Homo sapiens: one gene and its partners. The protein of the gene in region 1 binds, or shares a complex with, the protein of each later gene. Each region holds a gene or a part of one and is shown on either strand. Other genes may lie near its edges.

The links.
Region 2: SNRNP40 (region 1) and PRPF3 share a complex: the UniProt entries of both Homo sapiens proteins name them as parts of the U4/U6-U5 tri-snRNP complex.
Region 3: SNRNP40 (region 1) and LSM4 share a complex: the UniProt entries of both Homo sapiens proteins name them as parts of the U4/U6-U5 tri-snRNP complex.
Region 4: SNRNP40 (region 1) and LSM7 share a complex: the UniProt entries of both Homo sapiens proteins name them as parts of the U4/U6-U5 tri-snRNP complex.
Region 5: SNRNP40 (region 1) and GPKOW share a complex: the UniProt entries of both Homo sapiens proteins name them as parts of the minor spliceosome.
Region 6: SNRNP40 (region 1) and DHX16 share a complex: the UniProt entries of both Homo sapiens proteins name them as parts of the minor spliceosome.
Region 7: SNRNP40 (region 1) and CRNKL1 share a complex: the UniProt entries of both Homo sapiens proteins name them as parts of the minor spliceosome.

What each region holds. Positions count from the first base shown.
Region 1 is NC_000001.11:31,286,789-31,290,288, forward strand, and holds part of SNRNP40 (U5 small nuclear ribonucleoprotein 40 kDa protein), read right to left. Parts: intron 2,632-3,500; coding exon 2,466-2,631; intron 1-2,465. UniProt on the Homo sapiens protein: Required for pre-mRNA splicing as component of the activated spliceosome. Component of the U5 small nuclear ribonucleoprotein (snRNP) complex and the U4/U6-U5 tri-snRNP complex, building blocks of the spliceosome.
Region 2 is NC_000001.11:150,345,533-150,349,032, reverse strand, and holds part of PRPF3 (U4/U6 small nuclear ribonucleoprotein Prp3), read right to left. Parts: intron 3,016-3,500; coding exon 2,897-3,015; intron 2,626-2,896; coding exon 2,542-2,625; exon of another isoform or gene 2,532-2,541; intron 1-2,531. UniProt on the Homo sapiens protein: Plays a role in pre-mRNA splicing as component of the U4/U6-U5 tri-snRNP complex that is involved in spliceosome assembly, and as component of the precatalytic spliceosome (spliceosome B complex).
Region 3 is NC_000019.10:18,309,577-18,313,076, reverse strand, and holds part of LSM4 (U6 snRNA-associated Sm-like protein LSm4), read left to right. Parts: intron 1-374; coding exon 375-473; intron 474-3,215; coding exon 3,216-3,399; intron 3,400-3,500. UniProt on the Homo sapiens protein: Plays a role in pre-mRNA splicing as component of the U4/U6-U5 tri-snRNP complex that is involved in spliceosome assembly, and as component of the precatalytic spliceosome (spliceosome B complex).
Region 4 is NC_000019.10:2,321,021-2,323,303, reverse strand, and holds the end of LSM7 (U6 snRNA-associated Sm-like protein LSm7), read left to right. Parts: intron 1-1,481; coding exon 1,482-1,624; 3' UTR 1,625-1,783; downstream 1,784-2,283. UniProt on the Homo sapiens protein: Plays a role in pre-mRNA splicing as component of the U4/U6-U5 tri-snRNP complex that is involved in spliceosome assembly, and as component of the precatalytic spliceosome (spliceosome B complex).
Region 5 is NC_000023.11:49,113,736-49,117,235, forward strand, and holds part of GPKOW (G-patch domain and KOW motifs-containing protein), read right to left. Parts: intron 3,428-3,500; coding exon 3,295-3,427; intron 2,589-3,294; coding exon 2,486-2,588; intron 2,280-2,485; coding exon 2,156-2,279; intron 2,061-2,155; coding exon 1,991-2,060; intron 204-1,990; coding exon 118-203; intron 21-117; coding exon 1-20. UniProt on the Homo sapiens protein: RNA-binding protein involved in pre-mRNA splicing. As a component of the minor spliceosome, involved in the splicing of U12-type introns in pre-mRNAs.
Region 6 is NC_000006.12:30,659,507-30,663,006, forward strand, and holds part of DHX16 (pre-mRNA-splicing factor ATP-dependent RNA helicase DHX16), read right to left. Parts: coding exon 3,405-3,500; intron 3,237-3,404; coding exon 3,121-3,236; intron 2,926-3,120; exon of another isoform or gene 2,351-2,925; coding exon of another isoform or gene 2,250-2,350; intron 1,112-2,249; exon of another isoform or gene 1,064-1,111; intron 737-1,063; coding exon 526-736; intron 329-525; coding exon 230-328; intron 119-229; coding exon 1-118. UniProt on the Homo sapiens protein: Required for pre-mRNA splicing as a component of the spliceosome. Contributes to pre-mRNA splicing after spliceosome formation and prior to the first transesterification reaction.
Region 7 is NC_000020.11:20,038,967-20,042,466, forward strand, and holds part of CRNKL1 (crooked neck-like protein 1), read right to left. Parts: coding exon 3,359-3,500; intron 2,660-3,358; coding exon 2,600-2,659; intron 1,801-2,599; coding exon 1,720-1,800; intron 883-1,719; coding exon 643-882; intron 1-642. UniProt on the Homo sapiens protein: Involved in pre-mRNA splicing process. As a component of the minor spliceosome, involved in the splicing of U12-type introns in pre-mRNAs.

The DNA of each region.
Region 1 (3,500 bases):
AGTGTGGATGCTCTCCTTACCACACTTGTGCTCTGACACTCTACTCTGGGCCACCTTGGCCCATCTCTAACTAGAGCACCTTCCCTGCTTTGGCCTATATAACTGGCTTTAGGACTGAACTGCTCATGAAAGGGAAATTTATATATATATGAGTACATACACACATACACGCAGTATTTCACTTAATTTTATTAGAAGAATGCACTTGATAAAAAGTTTGAAAACGATCTGTATGAATAATGCCCAGAATGCTTTTAGACTAAAAATGCAAGTGCTGTTGGAAACCTTTGCTTTCTGTTAAGAACTCTGACATGTAAAAAGCAACATGACTTTTTTTCCTCTTAAACTGAAGTTATTCAATTCCTGTACTTGCAACCTAGTAACAAAAATACAAGAACACAAAGCATTCCAACTTCACAAGTAACTGAAAAGTACATTGCAAAAAGCTGTTTAATGATGCCTTAAATATAAATATACTGACATTAAAAATAGGAGCTGGTTAAAAAGCAGTCATCTTTAGGTGATGTGACATACTGCTTATTAAAAAAAGTATTAACTTGAGTAATAAGGTAAAAATAACTATTCCAAATCATGTTTAATTAAGGCAGAAGAGAAGCAAAAAACCAAAAGAAGGCAGACAGAAAGGACATATACTCTTTTTCTACTACCTAAATAGTTCCTAGATATTTATTACAGCAGGCCCTCAATAATAATGTTAACAAAATTCACTGGGGCATTTCCACCTCTTACTATCTTCTGAAATGACAATTAGTAAATCAGCTACTGTTAAGACTCTCCAACTACAGTGACATCTAGGTCAGAGCTCTGGTTTAGAAACCAATCTTAAACAACAGACTCTCCTCCCATCCAACCATCAAGGGGCCCCAAGTGATTAGGTATAAGAAAACCACTCAGTAGAAAAACGTCTCAGCCAAGTGTGGTGGCTCACGCCTGTAATCCCAGCACTTTGGGAGGCCGAGGGGGGCGGATCACAAGGTCAGGAGTTTGAGACCAGCCTGGCCAATATGATGAACCCCTGCCTCTACTGAAAATACAAAAACTAGCTGGGCGTGGTATGGGTCCCTGTAGTCCCAGCTACTAGGGAGGCTGAGGCAGGGGAACTGCTTGAACCCAGGAGGTAGAGGTTGCAGTGAGCTGAGATTGCGCCACTGCACTCCAGCCTGGGCAACATGGTGAAACCCCATCTCTACCAAAAATAGAAAAATTAGGCAGGTATGGTGGTGTGCACCTGTAATCCCAGCTACTCAAGAGGCTGAGGCTGGGGAATCACTTGAACCCGGGAGGTGGAGGCTACAGTGAGCCAAGATTGTGCCACTGCACTCCAGCCTGGGCGATAGAGCAAGACCCTGTCTCAAAGAAAAAAAAAAAAAAGCAAATTCATTAATTCATTTAAAAAGCAATAAGAAGTATGGGGGTGTAGTTTCCCAGATGTACTCTTTTGAAGTCCCTCACTGTTTAACAATTAAAATATAAACCAGAGCCCAAAATTCGTGTCAAAGAGAGAATCAAATGGTTGGTACTATGATGTACTGTGTCCTTGTGTGCCTCTGAGATAAATTATTATTTCTAGGCCTCAGTTTCCTTATTTATAAAATGAGGATGCTCAGTGAGATCAGTGGCTCCCAGAATGTGAGACTGGCTACACTGAATCACTTGAAGGACACATTAAAATATCTGATTCCCATTGCAGATCCACTGAACCAGATTCTTTGGGTATTTTTAACAGGTTCTTCAGGTGATGATGATATAAAGATAGGCTGGCAACCATCTGACTAAACGATGTTTAAGTTCCCATCTTGTGCCATACTAAAACTATTCACTGAACTTTTTATATATTGTCTATAATCTCAGAACAGCCTTTTTTTTTTTTTTGCTACCTCCCTGTTGGTGGAGATACTCATAACAGCCTTGAAAGACACGTATATTACTGTCACAGTTCTTTTTTTTGAGACAGAGTCTCGCTCTGTCGCCCAGGCTGGAGTGCAGTGGTGCAATCTCTGCAAGCTCCACCTCCCGGGTGCACACCATTCTCCTGCCTCAGCCTCCCAAGCAACTGGAACTACAGGTGCCCGCCATCACGCCCGGCTTATTTTTTGTATTTTTAGTAGAGACGGGGTTTCACCGTGTTAGCCAGGATGGTCTTGATCTCTTGACCTCGTGATCCACCCGCCTCGGCCTCCCAAAGTGCTGGGATTACAGGCGTAAGCCACAGCACCCGGCCTATTTCAAGTAACAATTTATTCTATGGTTCTATTATTATTCTGTAGGGTAATTAAAACTTGTATTAAATGTTTTATTTTAAATGGGGAAAAATTTCAAGTGTGTTATGGGAGATGACTGCTAAAATTAAGTTTTGCACAGGAAGCTAGAGTACAAGTGGCAAGGCAAGATAAGGTTCACATCACATCACCTCAGAAACTGGAACACGGAGAGACAATACCCACCTTAACTGTGCCATCGTCACTGCCAGTGCAGACAAGCTGAGGGCCTCTCCTGGCTGGATAACAGGAATTCACAAAGGAAGTATGTCCCTTTAGCCTTTTAACCCTCTCACCTGTTTCACTATCCCACACAGCCACGGTTTTATCTGTGGATGCTGAGAAAAGCATACTAGAAAGTAAGAGAAAGAATAAAAAAGAAATAAGTGAAGATAAACAGTAACAATCTATCTTTCCTACTTGACAAAAGGTGCCAAATTTTTCAAGATCACTGACCTGCTGTGCTACGCCAGTTTGCCCATGATGCTGGAATGCCTCACCCTACCAAAATCCTATTTGTCCTCTAGGCCCAGATGGCCCAGATAAAAGATCTACCCCTGTGAAGTTTAAAAAATTCCCCTTCTTTGAGTCCCCATGACATACATCTAATGTAGCAGTTTGCTCTATCTTTTCCTCTTTTGTGATAGCTAACATTTTAAACATAAGACACCCTCTCACTTGGAAATGTTTAATAACTCCCTGGTGCTGCAGAGATCAGACAGACTGTGGTACCGACCTGACAGCTGAGTGACTCCAATCTTTTCTCTTTACCAAAGTTTTTCTTTTGTCTCTGAGGACAATTTCTTTCTTTCATTTTTTTTTTGAGATGAGATCTTGCTCTGTCACCCGGGTTGGAATCATGGCTCACTGCAGCCTCGACCTCCTGGGCTCAAGTGATCCTCCCACCTCAGCCTCCTGAGTAGCTGGGACCACAGGTCTGTGCCACCATGCTCAGTTAATTTTTAAAAATCATTTGTAGAGGCAAGGTCTCACTATGTTGCCCAGGCTGGTCTTGAACTGGGCTCAAGCAATCTTCCTGCCTCAGCCTCCTACAGTGCTAGGGTTATAGGCGTAAGCAACCACGCCCAGCCTCTGAGGATGATTTCTAAGTTATAACTGATCTTATAATGCTTTCTTTTTTCATTTTTTTTGAGATGGAGTCTCACTGTGTTGCCCAGGCTGGTTTTGAACTCTTGGGCTCCAGGAATCCTCCTGCCTCAG
Region 2 (3,500 bases), about 120 Mb from region 1:
TTTCTGTTGCTCTTTATTTTCCCCAAATTAGACTTGAAGCTCCAAGTAGGCAGTAATATTAATTGATACAATTAGCATTTACATAGCACTTGTTATGAATCAAGAGCTCCACCAGGTACTGGGAATAAGGAAATAAAAGACAAGCAGTCAAGAATAAAAACTTGTCCTAGGCACTTTGGGAGGCAGGCTTCATATGTCAACATCATATATTACTCTCAAAAAACTTTCACCCAATGGAGGAGGAGGGCAGATATACCAAATCAAAATTATCGGCCAGCGTGGTGGCTCACGCCTGTAATCCTAGCGCTTTGGGAGGCTGAGGTGAGTGGATCACCTGAGGTCAAGAGTTTGAGACCAGCCTAGCCAACATGGCGAAACCTCATCTCTACTAAAAATACAAAAATTAGCCAGGTGTGGTGGCAGGTGCCTGTAATCCGAGCTTATCAGGAGGCCGAGGCAGGAGAATCACTTGAACCTGGGAGGCGGAGGCTGCAGTGAGCCAAGATGGTGCCACTGCACTCCAGCCTGGGCAAAAGAGCAAAGACTCCATCTCAAAAAAAAAAAAAAAAAAATGCACGTGTAGAACAAAATATTTTTTATTCTCAGGTATCTTAAGATGAACTCTCTGCAGATTTTATTTATATTTTTATTTTTTTGAGACGGAGTCTTGCTCTGTCACTCAGGCTGGAGTGAAGTGGTATGATCTCAGCTCACTGCAACCGCTTCCTGGGTTCAAGTGATTCTCCTGCCTAGGCCTCCCGAGTAGCTGGGATTACAGGCGCACGCTGCCACGCCCAGCTCATTTTTGTATTTTTTAGTAGAGACGGGGTTTCACCATGTCAGGCTGGTCTCAAACTCCTGACCTCAGGTGATCCACCCGCCTCGGCCTCCCAAAGTGCTGGGATTACAGGCATAAGCCATCACACCAGGCCTCTCTGCAGATTTTAAATGCTAATCCAGGTGTTCAAAGATGAGAAGAATGAACACTAATGGGAGTATGATGGCCAGAAGAATGTCTGGCCTTCAAATATAGACAGACAGTCCTTGACTTACAATTTTTTGCCTTGAGTATAGTGTGAAAGTGATAAATATTTAGTAGAAAATGTACTTCAAATTTTAAATTTTGAGATTTTCCTGGGCTAGCAATATGCAGTAAAATACTCTTACATGAGATAAAAATAGGCTTTGTGTTAGATGATTTTGCCCAACTGTAGGCTAATCTAAGTATTCTGAGAAAGTATAAGGAAGGCTAGGCTGTTATGATGTCCTGTAGGTCAGATGTATTAAATGCATTTTTTTTTTTTTGAGATGGAGTCTTGCTCTGTCGCTTAGGCTGCAGTGCAGTGGTGCGATCACAGCTTACTGCAACCTCCGCCTGCCAGGTTCAAGCGATTCTCCTGCCTCAGCCTCCCGAGTAGCTGGGATTACAGAGGTCCACCACCACGCCCCGAATTTTTGTGTTTTCAGTAGAGACGGGGTTTCACCATGTTGGCCAGGCTGTTACGAACTCCTGACCTCAAATGATCTGCTCGCCTCGGCCTCCCAAAGTGCTCAGATTATAAGTGTGAGCCACCGTGCCTGGCCTTAAATGCATTTTTGACTTAACAATATTTTCAATTTATCTCAGGTTTATTGGAACTAACCCCATCATTAAGTTGAAGAGCATATGTGTGAGTATGTACATGTACATGTATGTGTGTGTATTGTGTGTATGTGTATGTGTGTGTACATGTGTGTATGTATGTGTGTGTGTGTGTATGTATGTGTATGTGTGTATATATATATATCAGACAAAAGAAATAGTTTGATCAAAGCAGAGCTTTTTTGACCTGAAGATCTTTTTGGCTTCAATCCTTAAAAAAAAAAAAATCAAATAATAATATAATATAGACACTGTACACATGAATGTATAGCTTACTAGATTTGCTTTTTCTTTTTTTTGAGACAGGGTCTCATTCTGTCACCCAGGCTGGATTGCAGTGGCACGATCACAGCTTACTGCAGCCTCGACCTCCCCAAGCTCAAGTGATCCTCCCACCTCAGCTTCCTGAGTAGCTGGGAATACAGGTGTGTGCCACCACATCCAGCTAATTTTTGTACTTTTTGTAGATATGGGGTTTCACCACGTTGTTTGCCCAGGCTGGTCTCGAACTCCTGGCCTCAGGCAATCTGCCCGCCTCAGCCTCCCAAAGTGCTAGGATTACAGGCATGAGCCACCATGCCTAGCTGCTTGCTGAATTTTCAAATACTGAATAAATTCATGTAACCGGTACTCAGATCCAGGACAGACACAGAAACCAGCTGGTAGAAAAGCCTTAAATGATAGGCAAAAAAATAGCTTTACCATTCATGCATATAATCATGTAGTAAATATTGTATGAATGTCTAGGAGGCTCAAAGTCTAAACGGGTCTTTCTAAAATTCCTGAACACTATCTAGTGTTATCAAGAGTGTCACAGGGAGGAAATAAGATGAACGGACAGATGCACCATCCCCACCTCCCATAGCTCTCCCCCTTAATCCCCTCTAACCCCCATTCACCATCTCCCTTTGTGTTAGATGTCTGTTCATCCCACTTTATCCGATGCAGCATAAGACGCTTAAATTTCTTCTGGGCCTTGGGGCCTGGAAACAGAGAAGAATAATTTTGCCAGAACTGTGGAAGATGATGGGGTAGAAAGAACCTCTGAGCTCAGACATTAATGTGGTAGTTGAAGCAATCTCAGGAACCACATCTTAGGGCCTTCTACTCCAAAAAACACAGAAGCAGAGACCTAGCATATTATATCAGGTATGGCACTAAAATACGATCTTTTTCTCCTTTCTCCCCACAATGCTAATCACTCTAAGCCTAGGGTTGTCTGGGGACAGTCTCCCTCAAGTTTTTCAGACTCACCCCCTTCCACTACTACCACGTTGACATCCTTGTGCAGTACCACCACCCCTGTCAGGTACAGTTGCCCAGCATTGGCTTCAATCTTGAACTTCTTGGCTGGGTTGCTCAAATTTCGAACTCTGGAGAAGGGAAAGTTTAGTTATGTCTTCCATTTTAGCATCAGCAGCTGCCTGAATGGAGTGGCAAGTAAAAAGATGAATCCAAAATGGTTTCCTCTCTATAAACAAAGGCCTCTGGAGTAAACAAATAGATGAATGCTTAAAAGGTAGAGTTGATGAGTCTAGAAATATTTCCACACTCTTACATTTCTTCAAAGTCTAGCACTTTACATTAACCATTACATTACTAACCAAAGTTTACTCTAAGAGTCAGGGAGAGGTATTTACTATCATCCAAAAATACTTACAATCTCATTGTTCTTGACAATGTAAAGACCTACAGACTTTTTGTCCTCTAGACCCTTAGACTCTTATAATATAGGATTACTTGGCTGGGTGCGGTGGCTCATGCCTGTAATCCCAGCACTTTGGGAGGCCAAAGTGGGCAGATCACGAGGTCAGGAGTTTAAGACCAGCCTGGCCAACATGGTGAAACCCCATCTCTA
Region 3 (3,500 bases), on another chromosome or scaffold:
CAGCTAATTTTTATGATTTTAGTAGAGATGGGGTTTCACCATGTTGGTCAGGATGGTCTCAATCTTTTGACCTCGTGATCTGCCTGCCTCGGCCTCCCAAAGTGCTGGGATTACAGGCGTGAGCCACCGCGCCCGGCCCAGTATCATTTTTTAATTGCACAAAGGTTGGCGTCATGATAGACTGTCTAACTGCCAGCGAAGTGTCTAGCGGAGGCAGAGCCTGTCGCCTGTAAGGAAGGCCATTTAGGGGTCTGGGAACTGTGGGCTGAGGCCCGGAGGTGGTGGTCCATCTCAGGGCAGAGCTACACCTCCTGAGGGGCCCATGGCGCAGGGCTCCAGGGCTACAGCCAACCTCTAGCCTGTCTCTCTTCTAGTTGGTGGAGCTGAAAAATGGGGAGACGTACAATGGACACCTGGTGAGCTGCGACAACTGGATGAACATTAACCTGCGAGAAGTCATCTGCACGTCCAGGGTGGGTGCTGCACCCACCAACGGGGGTGGGATGCAGGGGGTGCACACTCAGCCTCCTCCCTCCCTCCCTGGGCCTCATGGGAGGAGTCAGTGGGGGAGGCCGCCTAGGACTGCTCGTCCTTCCAGGGGTCAGTCAGGAGGGACAGGGCAGGGTGAGCTAGGCCACCAAGTCTCCCAGTGTGCCCTGGACTTTGACCCTGTGGGAGACTTTCCTGCTGTGTGTCTGTTGGTGCCACCCCTGACCTGGAAGGACCTAGGACTGGGGACTCCCTGTGGCTCAGGCTGGGGCAGCCCCCTCCAGGGGAGGCCCAAGACTCCCGGACTCTGCTGCCTTTAGTCCAGCCTGGATGTTGCCTGCACTCTGCGGGCCATGGTAGTGTGGCCCTGGGATGTCCGGGATGCCCAGGTCACGGTGGGCAGGAGCAGCGCCAGGGCCCGGTGGGTCAGGAGCCACCAGCCAGAGCCCAAGACCGGAAGTGCCTGGCTAGGAGTGCTGCTGGGTCGGCCGGGGCTGGAAGATGGTTCCCCTGGTGTCACGGGCCTTCCCTGCCCCTGGGATGACCCACAGAGCACTGAGGAGGAGGCCAGGGATGGTGCTGAAGGCAGCGGCTCCCTTGGACTCCTCCCACCAACCTTCCCTGACCCCATCTGTCTTGTCTCCCTGTGGGTGACAGCCCCCCATGGTATAGGGAGGAAACTGCTGGGGAGCTTGGAGTGCCTGCCTGGGGTCACCTTGACAGGACAACAGGGCTCGAGGGGGGAGGCGCTTCTTCCTGAAGTGGCCGTATCTTGCCCTGACCGCCACCCCCACCCGGGACTGGGCCTCTCATCAGCACAGGGCTGGGCGGGGTGGGGACAGGTGGTGAGGCTGCTGTGCAGCAGCGCTAGAAGCTCTAGAAACTGCTTGCTGGGTTTCGTGCCATAGCCTGTCGGAGGGCGTCTGGGTGGGTCCAGTCTGGCTGTGTCGGATGGTGCCTTGGTGCAGAACCGCGTGCCTCCCATCTGCGGCCAGCGGGGCTCTGTCCACTTCCGGTATTGGAATCACCAGGCGTGTTGCGTGCGTGAGCATGTGCGGTCTTGTGGACACCTCCAGGTCCTAGACATGAGAAGCCTGTTGATTCAGAGGCTGCGTGGTCTCCAGGGGTTGGTTTGGCCTCTGCCTCCAGCTTCGAGTGGACGGATGGCTTTCCCTGAGCAGCCTGCCTCTGTGGCCAGGCGGTGATGCTGCCGTCACATGTGGCTGGGAGGAGAGGCGATGGGAACTCACATCGTCCCCATCTAAGTGGGGCCCTCCCTCCCTCAGAGGCAGGCCGCAGGATGCAGAGACCCCGGGCTGAGAGACCTCTGGAGCGCTGTGGGCAGGAGGCAGGGGCCTCCCTGCAGTGAGCTCAGGCCCTGCCCAGGTTCCTGCACGAGGAAGCCTCTGGGCCCTGCCTGGGAGAGCTGGGCGCCAAGTCACCTGCCCAGGCCCTGAGTCCCCACAGAACCATGGTGTGTCCGCCCCACGAGCCCTCGAGGGGTTCCTGGGAGAGTGAGCACCCAAAGGGGCTGTTCCTCCCCGCCCAGCGCTAGGCCAGGCCACACCTACCCAGGTGTGGAGGAGAGTGTCTGACAGGAGGACTTGGGGATTCGGGCAGGTAAGGCCTTTTGGGGTCAAAGTTAGCCAGATGAGAAGTGGGAAAACCACGTGCAAAGTTCTGGGGGCAAGCCCATGGCGTGTGTTCCGGAAACAGAAAGTTCCATCTGGAGGGAGTGTCGTCGGGCTGGGAGAGGACCGCCAGGGCGGGGCAGGATCTCGGGCCCTAGAGAGCCCTGCTGAGGTTCTTAGACCTTGCCCCCAGGCTGGAGGGGGCCCTGGGTGGGTTCCAAGCTGGAACATACTGTGATCTGACTTTAAAGGGCATCGGGGGCAAAGGCCATCCAGGCGTCGTGCGTGGGTCTGTCCAGGAACCTGGGCGGTGGGGCGGGGCTGGGAAACTGATATGGTAGGAATGGCCCTGGCCCCTGCTAATCCCTCGATCTGTCCCAGTGGGGGCCTCGGAGGCATTGCAGCATGAGTCTGTGTCTTTGCAAGGCCCCCATTTCTCCAGTCTTGGTTAGCTCTCCTAAAACTGGCATCGCTGGGAGCCGCCCTTGAGCCACCCTGGCAGGACCCAAGTCCCCCCATTTCCCGCCCCTCTTCACCCACCACACTAGGCCTGTAGCTTGCTCGCATGTCCCTGCACCCAGCGCAGGCCCTGTCAGGAGATACTTAGATGAATGAATGAGTCAGGGCATGTAGAGAGGCTTCCAGAAGTGAGGTGGGGCTGGGGCAGGAGGAGGAGTAGCTGGGCTTCGGCTGTGTCTGGTGCACAGGGAGGCCCCCACCCGCTCTGGGCTTTGGGCTGCAGGTGAAGAACCCCAACCAGAGAGAGCCCCATCCCAGGCTGGAGGGAGCCCCAGTCAGCCACTCCTGAGCCAGGCCCACGGGCAGAGGATAGGAGCCAGTCTTCCTTGTGAGTGCACAATGGGGGCTGCGCCTACCACACCCACCCTTGCTCCTGGGTGAAGGATTGCCTGGGGTCAGGACAGATCCTGCCTGCAGGGTGGACCCTTTGCCACGTATGTCCCGGGACTGATACTGTGCAGCTTGCAGGGGTGGTACGGGGTGCAGGCTGGGCAGGATCTGCAGGGCCTCCCGCGCTCCCAGGGCTGGGCCAGACGGCCCGGTGGTAAGTTAATAACCTGCTCCCCTTCTCCGCAGGACGGGGACAAGTTCTGGCGGATGCCCGAGTGCTACATCCGCGGCAGCACCATCAAGTACCTGCGCATCCCCGACGAGATCATCGACATGGTCAAGGAGGAGGTGGTGGCCAAGGGCCGCGGCCGCGGAGGCCTGCAGCAGCAGAAGCAGCAGAAAGGCCGCGGCATGGGCGGCGCTGGCCGAGGTGGGTCTCCCCTCTCCAGTGGACGTACCTGGGGCGGGAAGACAGCCACACGTGGCATCCCTCCTTCTTGGGGTTGCCCTTGCAGCGCTGCCTCGGAGCCT
Region 4 (2,283 bases), on another chromosome or scaffold:
GGGGCTCCTCTCGGGCGCCTTTCCTCTTCTGCCCTTGTTAATTCCCGCTATGAACGCAGGGTCCCTGTCTCCTCCCCAGAGGACCCTCCCTCATTTCCCTGCCCCCGCTCGCTCCCCTCCCCAGTGAGGCCGCCAAGTCCTCAGACTCTCCCCCAGAAGCTCCTGCGGCAAGTCCCCAGCTGGCAAGTCCCCATCCCGGCCCGGGCACTGGGGGAATGTCAGGACTTAGGAGAGAGAGGGTCTTGCCCCTTGGATCCATTGATACTGAGACAAGATTTATTCTTGTAGCTGGCCATGGTGGCTCATGCCTGTAATCCCAGCACTTTGGGAGGCCAAGACAGGAGGATCACTCGAGCCCAGGAATTTGAGACCAGCCTGGGCAACATAGTGAGACCCTGTCTCTACAAAAAAAAAAAAAATGTAATTAGCCAGGCATGGCGGTACATGTGCCTGTGGCCCCAGCTACTCAGGAGGCTAAGGCAGGAGGATTGTTTGAGCCCAGGAGGTTGAGGCTGTGAGCTGTGATTGCACTGCTGCACTCCAACCTGAGCAACAGAGCAAGACCTGGTGTCTGAAAAAAAGTTTAAAAACCTGGGCCCCATGGTTCTCCCATGCCCCCACCACTGCAGGACCACAGTAGTGAGGAGTTTTAATCGCCTTCAGCCTCTTGAGAGCTTGTCTTGGGCTTGCTGGCACTTCCCTGGGGTGCCAGCCCACATGGTCCCCACCCCACATGAACAGCCTCTTTATTTTTTTATTTTTTGAGATGGAATCTCGCTCTGTCACCCAGGCTGGAGTGCAGTGGCGCGATCTCGGCTCACTGCAAGCTCCGCCTCCTGGGTTCACACCATTCTCCTGCCTCAGCCTCCCGAGTAGCTGGGACTCCAAGTGCCTGCCACCACGCCCGGCTAATTTTTTTGTATTTTTTAGTAGAGACGGGGTTTCACCAAGTTAGCCAGGATGGTCTCGATCTCCTGACCTCGTGATCCGCCTGCCTTGGCCTCCCAAAGTGCTGGGATTACAGGCGTGAGCCACCGCGCCCGGCCCCCAGCCTCTTTGTTATAGGGTGAATATTGGCCCCCTAGGGCTCCAGGGACCTTGCAGAGACCAGGAGGCCCAGGGTGCCTGTATTCTGGCCGGCCATCTGATAACCTGGTTCCCGGCCCTGGTGCCTGGGCCCCAGTGAGCTCTGAGACGCGGGGTAGCCGGCTATCACCTGGGCCTTCTTGTTCCCATGGTTTGTGGAGTGAGGGAGGGCTGTGGCTGCTGTCTGTGGAGCTGCCACTGGTCTCTAGGGGCCATGGGTCTCAGCCGTGGGAGCCGGGGACCTGCCCCACAGAGCGCATCCCGTCTGAGGTCCCTGCGTGCTCGTGGCGCCTGCAGGGTGCAGGTGGGGAGGTCGGAGCGAGGGTCTTGGGTGGGTGGGGGGTCTCGGAGGCTTCCTGGAGGTCCCTCAGTCCTCTCTATCTGCTCCTCCCCAGACCCTGACGACCAGTACAAGCTCACGGAGGACACCCGGCAGCTGGGCCTCGTGGTGTGCCGGGGCACGTCCGTGGTGCTAATCTGCCCGCAGGACGGCATGGAGGCCATCCCCAACCCCTTCATCCAGCAGCAGGACGCCTAGCCTGGCCGGGGGCGCGGGGGGTGCAGGGCAGGCCCGAGCAGCTCGGTTTCCCGCGGACTTGGCTGCTGCTCCCACCGCAGTACCGCCTCCTGGAACGGAAGCATTTTCCTTTTTGTATAGGTTGAATTTTTGTTTTCTTAATAAAATTGCAAACCTCAATGTGTCTGAGCCCCGAATCTTGCTTTTCCCTTGACCTTCTGAGGAAACCTGGATTCCTGGAGATTGGACTCAGTCCCTGGAGCTCATCAAATACCAGCCATGGTCCCTCCTGGGGGTGAGGGTTCAGGAGTGACCAAGGCGGGCACAGCCAAGGCCGAGACAGGCGAGTTTGGAACCTCAGTCTGATGAGGGGCTTGTGGAACCCCAGGCCCGCCCCCAAGACAGCAGGAGCTGGGGTGCATCAGGAGCCGGGATGCATCAGGAGGCTGGGGTATATCAGGAGGCCGGGGTGCATCAGGAGGCCGGGGTGCGTCAGGAGCCGGGGTGCATTAGGAGGCTGGGGTGCATTAGGAGGCTGGGTGTGTCAGGAGCTGGGTGTGTCAGGACCTGGGGTGAATCAGGAGCCGGGGTGCATCAGGAGGCTGGGGTGCATCAGGAGCCGGGGTGCATCAAGAGGCCAGACCCCACAGCCCATGCAGCTAACACCTGCCCCCGCTGCT
Region 5 (3,500 bases), on another chromosome or scaffold:
CGGCTCAGCAAATGTCCCACCTGGAACAGAGGTGAAGTGGAATCAGCAAGGCAAGCCTAGACCCTGGGACAGGCCCTGAACGACCCACAAACCTCTACTGCCAGGTCTGAGACTCACCCTTCCAGTCTGTGGGCCCAGCACCACCATCACACGGTCACCCTCTGCCTTGGGAACCAGGGTCTCCAGCATGTCTTCCCTCAGGCCTATGGATAAGGGAGAGGGGAGTGAGGCCCACAGCAAGGACCAGCCCAACCAGCGTCCTGTCAGAAGGGCCTTTCCTGGCCAGGCGTGGTGGCTCACACCTGTAGTCCCAGCACTTTGGGAGGCTAAGTTGGGAGGATCGCTTGAGCCCAGGAGTTCGAGACCAACCTGGGCAAGATGGTCAGACCTCATCTCTACAGATTTTTTTGTTTTGTTTTTTGAGACTGAGTTTGGCTCTTGTTGCCCAGGCTGGAGTGCAATGGTGTGGTCTTGGCTCACTGCAACCTCCGCCTCCTGGGTTCAAACGATTCTCCTGCCTCAGCCTCCTGAGTAGCTGGGATTACAGGCACCCACTACTGCGTTTGGCTAATTTTGTATTTTTAGTAGAGATGGGGTTTTGACATGTTGGTCAGGCTGGTCTCAAACTCCTGACCTCAGGTGATCCACCCTCCTCGGTCTCCCAAAGTGCTGGGATTACAGGCATGAGCCACCGCGCCCAGCCTACAAAAAATTTTAAAATTAGCCAGGCATGGTGGTCAGTGCCTGCAGTCCCAGCTACTCAGGAGGCTGAGGTGAGAGGATGGCTTGAAACCAGGAATTTGAGGTGGCAGTGATCCATGATGGTGCCACTGCACTCCAGCATAGGTGATAAAATGAGACCCAATCTCAAAAAAAAAAAAAGAAAAAAAAAAAAAAGAAGGGCCTTTCAGCTGGGTGTGGTGGCTCATGCCTGTAATCCCAGCACTTTGGGAGGCTGAGGCAGGAGGATCACGAGGTAAGGGGTTCAAGACCAGCTTGGCCAATATGGTGAAAACCTGTCTCTATTAAAAATACCAAAATTAGCTGGGTGTGGTAGCGGGCACCTGTAGTTCCAGCTACTCAGGAGGCTGAGGCAGAAGAATAGCTTGAACCCGGGAGGCGGAGGTTGCAGTGAGCCAAGATTGCGTCACTGCACTCCAGCCTGGGTGACAGAGTGACTCTGTTTCAAAAAAAAAAAAAAAAAAAAAAAAAAAAAAAAGAAGGGCCTTTCCTGTATTCCCTGGAGCCACTCTACACCCTGTTGACAGATGGGAGTCCCGCCACATCCATTTCACAGATGAGGTAGCCTAAGGAGTAGTTTACAAAAATCACTGTAATAAAGGGTGGTGGTGATAACAACAGGCACCTTTTATTGTGGGCATGTTTTAACCCCTGCCCTGCACTGAGAGCTCAATACACATTCCTTCACTAAGGCACCAATCACAAGAGGAAGAAATAGTAAATTCCATGCTAATTTGACAGACCGGAGGCCGAGCGCGGTGGCTCACGCTTGTAATCCCAGCACTTTGGGAGGCCGAGGTGGGAGGATCACTTAAGGTCAGGAGTTCCAAGACCAGCATGGTCAACATGGTGAAACCCTGTCTCTACTAAAAACACAAAAATTAGCCAGGTGTGGTGACGCTTGCCTGTAATCCCAGCTACTCGGGAGGCTGAGGCAGGAAAATCGCTTGAACCTGGGAAGTGGAGGTTGCAGTGAGCTGAGATCACGCCACTGCACTCCAGCCTGGGTGACAGAGTGAGACTCTGTCTCAAAAAAAAAAAAAAAGAAAAAAAAGAAAACTTGACAGACTGGGAGAGTGGGGCTCAAGATAACCAACCACCATCATGGAAGTGTCTAATGTTCTGTAAGAGGATGCTAGGCCTTGCAAAATACCTGAACTCTGCCAAACCTCCCAGCTTTGCCTGGGCCAGGCTCTGGGCCTAAAACACTCTTCTTGATCAACCTCCAGCTGCCATCGCTCAAACTCACCTTCCAGGACTCGGCCTTCATCTGTCCGACATACACAGGTATCTGGGCTTAGGACATCTTCAATTATCATCTGGGGATACAGGTCAGGGGGATGTGAGATTTTAGAGAGGTAGGGGGGCCCAGTCCCTAGGAGAGGGAGGGGGACTCAGGCTGCAGGGTTCCCACCTTGGTGTTGTAATATTGGCCTCCTTTGTACATGTTGTCCACAAACCGCACACGCAGGTCCCTGTGCAACCAGTGCTGACTTCTGGGGGCTGCTTTCTCACTCTTGGCTGCAGGCCCATCCTGTCTGTGGAGAAGGTGCCAGCACCAGGCTTAGCTCTTCATCAGATGCACTTTCCAGTTGCCCTCCCTTTGCCTATGCTATGAAACCCACCCACAATGCAGTTCCCCGTTCCTTCTATGAGCCCGCCTTGCCTTGGAAGCCTTCCCTGGCTGCTCGAGCCTACCCACAGCCCTGCCTTCTTGACCCCTCCCGCATGCTCAGAGTCCCACCGGTCTGGAAGGTGTTTCCGCTTCCTCTCTGAGTTGTCCTGCTGGATGTAGAGTTCTTGATTCCAGAGGGTCTTCCGTGATGAGGCAGTTCCGTTCTGTTGCCCTGGGGAAGGAAGTTTTGCTCATCTGGCCTGTTCAAGAGGTTATGAGGAGAACCAGGACAGAGCCTCAGTGTCTCACTGCCCTTTCCTTCCAAGGCCATGTCTCAGCCTAGAGCCACCTCCCACCTGCCAAAGTGCCCCTCTCACCCCTCATGCATTTGCTAGTAGAATGCCTCTCCCCCACCTCTCAACCATTTCAGCTTCCTTCAGGAACCCTCCCGCAGCCAACCTAGCCCACAACAACAATGCTCACCTAGTGTGGACTAGAGATTCCCAGAGAGCTCTGTCTGTACCCATTTGCCAAACTGCCCCGTCCTACCGAAACGCCTTCGCCTGTGCTGTTCTGTCTGCCTAGAATTCCTTCCTTCTTGGTCACACCCTAATCCTAGCAGTTCTCACTCCCTAGTAAAAGAGAGGTTCATCACCCCAAATGGACAAAGATCTCGAAGGTAGGAATTGGTTTCTGCACCTGTTTCTTCTCACTCAGACAGGCTACAGACCCAGGGGTATGACATCGACCTTTCTCCAATCAAATGGAGTAAGTCACTTATGTCCATTCTCACCTCCTGACCTCTGATTGGAAGTCATATCTGCCAGGCACACTGCTGCCCCTCCCTGCTGCAGATCTAAAACCACCCCATTAGCCAGGCCCTGCCACCCCTAGGAATGCGTTGCCAACTCCCCTAGCTCTACAAGAGGCTCACTCACTGAGATCCAAGGTGTTCTTGTCAAACTCCTGCTGGGAGACAGGCCGCAGGTAGTACTCACTAACAGTCACCACCCGGCTCCCCACAGCCAGACGAACCATGGCCCGAACATTGTCAGGATCAAGGCCTTCCACCTAAAGTGTTGAGGGGAAGAAGTCAGGTAGGGGTTGTGGACTCCACCCACATTCCTAGGACCAAGATGTCAAC
Region 6 (3,500 bases), on another chromosome or scaffold:
GGGCCTGCATGTCAGAGGGCAGATTGGCATAAATGGGCAGCACCAGGAGCTCCCGGATTTTGGAGCCCAGGCGGCGGCAGCGATCCTGGAGCATCTCACAGGCAGCCTCAATCTCCTCCTGGATAGAGGGTAGGGAGAGCAGCAGGGGTCCCAGAGTCACAGAAGGCCAACATGCCGGCCCTGTCTTCCCCTGGGATACATCATCCCCTCTCCCCACCATGTCAGGCACCTGTCCTGTCAGGAACACCAGGATATCCCCAGGGGGCTGGGTCACATGGATCTGCAACACAGATACTACACAAGCTTCCAAGTAGTCAGCCTCTGGAGCCTGGAGAGCAGAAAGAGATGGGGTCACAGGAGGGCCACCTGCTTAGGCAAACCTTTCCTCTCCTCCCAATTCAACATACACTTTATCCTAGTTCCCCTTTGAACCTTCCATTCCATCTTTCCCTCCACAGGATAACCTTCTCCAAAGGCCTCAGCTTTTCTGCCACAGACTTAAGCCCATCCTCCCTGAGGGGGCACCTTGGTGTAGAAGATGTCCACAGGAAACCTGCGTCCGGGGATTCGAAACACAGGGGCGTCATCAAAGAAGGTGGAAAAACGGGCAGTGTCCATTGTGGCTGAAGCCACCAGGACCTTGAGCTCAGGTCGGAAGCGAGCAACATCCTTGATCAATCCAAAGAGAATGTCTGTGTGTAGGGTCCTTTCGTGTGCCTCATCCACCATCACCACGCTGGGGAGGGAATAGGAGAGCAATGAGGGAAGAGCGCTAGGCAATGCAGTATCAGACACCAGAGTTAACTGGATGAGAGGGGAGTAATGGACACAAAGAGTTCAAGAATGACTGTTGACGGAGGGGGCTCTAAGGAGAAGTCAGCCATCCCACTTATGTAGAGCAACAGAAAGTCAGAGAAGGCCAGGGCCCCATGATCTGCAACCTATCCCAGCCTCAGCAGATAATAGGAGACAAGATGTAGAGGCTGCACACTGAGGCCAGGACAAGTTAGCCATACCCTCTAGTTCAGTCAAGAGTCTGCTTAGACTCAGCAGCTGCTCTTACTAGAAAAAGTTGAAGGATATGTTTTAGGCTGGGCATGGTGGTAGCTCACGCCTGTAATCCCAGCACCTTGGGAGGCCGAGGCAGGTGGATCACAAGGTCAGGAGTTCGAGACCAGTCTGGCCAATACAGTGAAACCCCGTCTCTTCTAAAAATACAAAAAAAATTAGCCAGATGTGGTGGTAGACGCCTGTAGTCCCAGCTACTTGGGAGGCTGAGGCAGGAGAATCGCTTGAACCTGGGAGGCAGAGGTTGCAGTGAGCCAAGATCGTGCCACTGCACTCCAGCCTGGGTGACAGAGCGAGACTCCATCTAAAAAAAGAAAAAAGAAAAAGTGGAAGGATTTTTTTTTTGAGACAGTCTTGCTCTGTTGCAGGCTGGAGTGTAGTGGCATGATCTCAGCTCACTGCAAGCTCCGCCTCCTGGGTTCACACCATTCTCCTGCCTCAGCCTCCCAAGTAGCTGGGACTACAGGTGCCTGCCACTGTGCCTGGCTAATTTTTTGTATTTTTAGTAGAGACGGAGTTTTGAAACAGAGTCTCACTCTGTCGCCCAGGCTGGAGTACAGTGGCACGATCTCGGCTCACCGCAAGCTCCGCCTCCTGGGTTGCGTTCACGCCATTCTCCTGCCTCAGCCTCCTGAGTAGCTGGGACTACAGGTGCCCGCCACCACGCCCAGCTAATTTTTTATATTTTTTAGTAGAGACGGGGTTTCACCGTGTTAGCCAGGATGGTCTTGATCTCCTTACCTCGTGATCCGCCTGCCTCTGCCTCCCAAAGTGCTGGGATTACAGGCGTGAGCCACCGCTCCCGGCTGATACGTTTTAAAGGAAAAAAAAAGTGGAAGGCAGGGTCCCTTTCAATAAGGGTGGGCCAGCAAGGCTGACTGGGGGTAATAGACCTGAGCTGCTGTGATTCAAATAGCCTAGAAGCTCCTGGTGTCCTGTGGGACAACTGCTGCTGGCATCATTCTTGACTGTTTCTTCTTTTGGAGACAGGAGCAAGTTAAGCCTTTCTACCTCAACTCTCACAGGACTCTGCATGCTCCTTGGTTTCCTCCTAACTCAGTTATGTGCATGACACCTTCTTTCTCTTTGTTCTTTGGCTTTTCTGGGTGGCAGCCAAGTCCCAGGAACTCATCCCCATCTTCCCCTACCCACCTCCCTGACCTCAACTCTTTGTGCCTAACCCTAACTGTGATGGTGAAGTCCCCAGCCATTCCACAAAGCAGGCTGGCTCGATGGGCAAAAACATCTGCATCAGACACTCTTGCGCTGGCTGGCTCTCCATGGGTTCTTAGAGATCTTTTGCAAGGGATATGAAGGATAAAATCCTATCTGTCCAATTGCTCCACTGTGATCTTCCAAGACCAGAAATTCACAGCCTCTGAAGAGTCAAAAAGGCACATATTGTTCAGCTGGCCTGACCCCACCCCCATTACATTCATGAATCCCTTTTCCCCCTCAACACATGTTCAACCAACCCCTGCTTGGCCATTTCCAGCACTAAGAGCTCATTATTCACAGACCAAGCTACCCAAGACTTGTGTGGAGGGCCAAGACCCAGAGTCCAACCACTCTGACAGGCCCTGCAATCTCCACCACTCTGAGGGTTACTCAGCCATTGGTATTGAGTTGGAATCTGTCTCCCTGTAACCTCCCCATGGCTCCTAGCTATGTCGTGTAGGGTCACATAAAACAATCTGATCCTTCTTTCCATGTAACAGCCTTCACATATTTAGAGGGAACCAGGATGCTTCCTGTTTCTCCCTCTGAGCTGAGCATTCCAAGTGTTTTCAAATGGTCTTCACACGGTATTTCAAGTCTCGGCAGCAATGCTCTGCTATCCTGGTTGTTTTCTAAACCCTGGAGATGAATGGGGAAAGAAGAGGCTTTCTCTACAATCTCTTCTGTCCTCCAGCCCCATCTCCGTGGTACCTGGAGGTCAGTTCAAGGACCATTTGAACCACAAAGATTCAAGAACGGGTGGATTAATCAGAAGACAATGGCTGAATTGGCTGGGTGGGAAGAAGGGAGAGAAAGGCCAGAGATTAGAGATACCTGTAACTCGCCAGGTCAGGCTCAGAGAGGAACTCCCGGAGAAGCATCCCATCTGTCATGTAGCGGAGGACAGTTCGCTCTGATGTGCAGTCCTCAAAGCGGATGCTGTAGCCAACCTGGTCAAGGGAACCATTAGCAACCAAGTGTGGGCTGGTGTGCCCTGAAAGGAACTTGGGGAAAGGTGAAGTGGGGCAGCACCAAGACTTCTGCTGTAGGGACCTGAGGGAACTGTAGACTGAGTCACAGACCCCAGACTCTACCCCCCGGTTCCCTAGAAATCTCACCTCATTCCCAAGCTTCACACCCATCTCCCGGGCCACTCGGGCGGCCACACTCATGGCAGCCACTCTCCGGGGTTGGGTGCAGGCAATCTTCATACC
Region 7 (3,500 bases), on another chromosome or scaffold:
GGAGGAGCCGAGGACAACTGATGAACTCAGTGATACCCAAAGCCCTGCCTTAATTAATGCAATCAGGGGGCCAAACCATTAAATGCAGGGTCATGTTAGTGCATGAGATTAACAAAACGGCTGGGTGAGTTCTACGACTCATGTGAGATTCAAATCTTTCCTAGCTGTGGTTTGGTGCTACCTTGTGGGTCAAGCTTAACTACTGAAGGCAGGCGAGGACTTTCAGGACAGTGACAACAGAAGTTGCAAGGACATCCTGGTTTAGAGAATACAGGGATGTGCAGTTCCTACCTCCATCCCCCTCGTTCTCCGGGTGGGCCAGCCTGCTGGCTTCTTCCTTGCCTGGCCTCTTCCCCAGCCCCTTTAGGCTTTCCTGCTGCAGAAGGGGCGTCACCCACCCCCATGATATCCCAGTTCATCCTGGGCATCATCCTGGATGTCTACTGCTCTGGTATCTAATGAGAGGGCTACTTCCCCTGTCCCCCACAGCCACCTTTCCACGTACAAGCCTAATCTGAGTAGAAGAGACTAAGTTAGTTAGATCATCGTTATACTCTAAAATACACCCACATTTAGATGGTCATCTAAAGTAAGACTAAACACGTATCTCAAACAAAATTATATTTGACTTGAGATGCTCACCTCTGGCATGTCTAAACGTGGCTGACTGATGGCTAATTCATAGATTGCCCGTGCTCTGTCAATATCACCAAGGATTGTCTCTAATTCAGCGAATTTAATCCATGAGGTACAATTTTCAGGTCCAAATTCCAGGAACTTTTCATAAAGCTTCCGGCATCTGTCAAATTCTCGAAGCTGTAGCTCCAATTCTATGTAAACTTTAAATAATTTGTTCTTTGGACATTTGCCTATGGAAGTTCCCTGGAAAATAAAATAACCAGACCACTGTGATACTGTAGTGGATTTAATCTGTGCAGTTATTGCACTGCCCTAGAGGCTGTTCTCTGCTGAGGAAGAATCTTGCAAAGTCAACATGGCCTACCATTCTTTCCCTCTGTGGTATCACAATGTTTACTGGTTCTTGACAAAAGGCTGAAGGAAACTCCTCTAATTCACTCAGCAAGAGGCAGTGTTCCAGAATTGTTTGGGCAACTAAATAAAATAAGATTTGAAAGTTTCTCAGGATCTCCTAGGGAATAGGGATGTCAAATGCATAAAACCTCCTATAAATAAAAAGGACAAGGCATGGTGGCTCATGCCTGTAATCCCAGCATTCTGAGAGGCCAACATGGGAGGATCATTTCCGCCCAGGAGGCAGAGGTTGCAGTGAGCCAAGATCGCGCTACTGCATTCCAGCTTGGGGAACAGAGCGAGACCCTGTCTCAAAAAAAAACCAAACAAACAAAAAAAAAAAAAAGAAAAAAAAAGTGGAACAATTAAAAGTGCATTTAACACACCAAAAAGTTTGCACAGGATCAGATTACTAATTCCAGTCTGTGGAAAGATTTAGTAACTGGTAGCTATAGAAGTTTCCAATATTGAAACAGAATGTTAATTTGCCCCAGGTAATAAGAATAATTTACGCATTATTAGTCAGTGTTTTTACAGAGGACGCATGTTTTCTAACATGTCCCAGGCTATAAAGGTATAATACTTCTGTCACTCTTTAAAGTAGGAACTGTACAACTTCCAAGCACCAAGATTTTAATTTCTTTCTCATAGAACTTGATGAGACATCTTGATCCTTTCTTTACTTACCAATGCTCTTCTGGCTAATGACAGATTCTTCTGTCGTATTTCAAACTGTGCATACAGTATCCACATTTTGGCAAATGTGAACTAGAAAACAAAAGCACAAAAATATCTAGCTTAAAAGCCTCATCCAAATTAAATTGAATTAAAATTAATTTAAATTAACCAAAGCCATTGGTAATTCGATTTCTCTAAAACTTCAGAGTAAGAGGAATGTACTCTGCTTATTTACAAGCAAAGACCACATTCATTTCACAAAAGTTAGAAACCCACATACCATGATCCAGATACTATATTGTACTGCATGGCATGGTAACCTCTCCTGAGAACCATGATCCAGATACTGTACTGTACTGTATGGCACGGTAGCCTCTGCTCAGAACAGACTTTGTTTTGTAGGCATGCTTGTATATGGGCAGAATGTCCTACCTCTATTCTGAAAAGTAACTCAGTCAACACTTCTACAGAAGGAAACACGTTTTGTTTCTCGTGCTGGGAAACAAGGCGGAGGTAACATCTCAACCATCTACACAAGGGGCACATTCATCTGTGCATGCACACACTCACTGTTACCAACAAACCCGCCTGTGTGTCCCCCGCACACGTTGTGTGCTCTCTGCATGGATGTCTTTCTCCTTCCACTCAGACTATTCACATTACCTAGCCTTCTCTGAATTTATATTATTTGTTTGTCAATGCAGGTTGTCCTCCAACCTAGTCTGTGAGCTGTTTTCAGAGGCAAGGAGCATATCTCAGTCTTATTTATGTTGTCCATGGTGGGACAGGGAAGCATTTTATCAATCAATATTATTTCACTGAATTACTTCACAAGTAACAGAAGAGGATTCTGACCTGTTTGAAATGGAACACTTTAGAGCAAACATACCTTTTTGTGAGGAATTAGTTCCAAAGAGGCTTGATACACCTGTCTTGTCCTCTCAGGATCCTGTATTAGGATAAGAAATTTTCACAAAATATTGAAGTCTGCTGCTAACACTCATTTTACTAGTTACTAATTTTACTGATATTGGTAAAAATGTACACCCCCAAAACAGCATGTTTCACAAGTTGTTACTTGCAAACCCTGATTTATGATCTAAAGTATGAACGGCCATGAAACTTCAGTTTAAGAATCACCAACAAGATAGCCACCAAACTTCTAAGCCCTTCTTTGTAGAAAGCCGTTTTGCCTGATGGCAGAAAGAAACAAAGATGTTTCATAGTCTCAGATCAAACCCAGAAGGTTAATACAAATGATTTCTGAAAATGCCACTTGATTTTTGCTAAAAGCAAAAATGCATAATCTAGCCAGAATTACTCCTATTAATGAGCAAATCCAGGAAACTATATTTCACTAAATTAAGGGCTGGTTCACTGTTCTCTTTCAAGCTCCAAGTGATATCTTGTTGTGCCTCAAGTAAAAATCAAACCAAAGTTAAAAAAGCCCCTCACGTGTGGCCACAACAAGCACAGAGGGTTTAAAATGTTGCAGAGCGAATATATAACTGTATGGATGAACAGAAGCCTATAAAAATTTAAAACTAAATTTCCTTCTTTCAAGAATTACAAACATCCACAATAGGTGAGCTGTGAATACAGAAGACAGGAAACCATTATCAGCTGACACATAATTCTGTTTTTTCACCTTTGCCTCCAATTCTTCATAGAGTGCATAGTTGATCCAAAGATAAATGTAGCGCTTCCAGTGCCTCTTCTCCTGAATGGGTGGGACATTGGCAATGGCCCTTTCATAGACTTCTCTCACGGCTTCAGCTTCTGCGTCACTT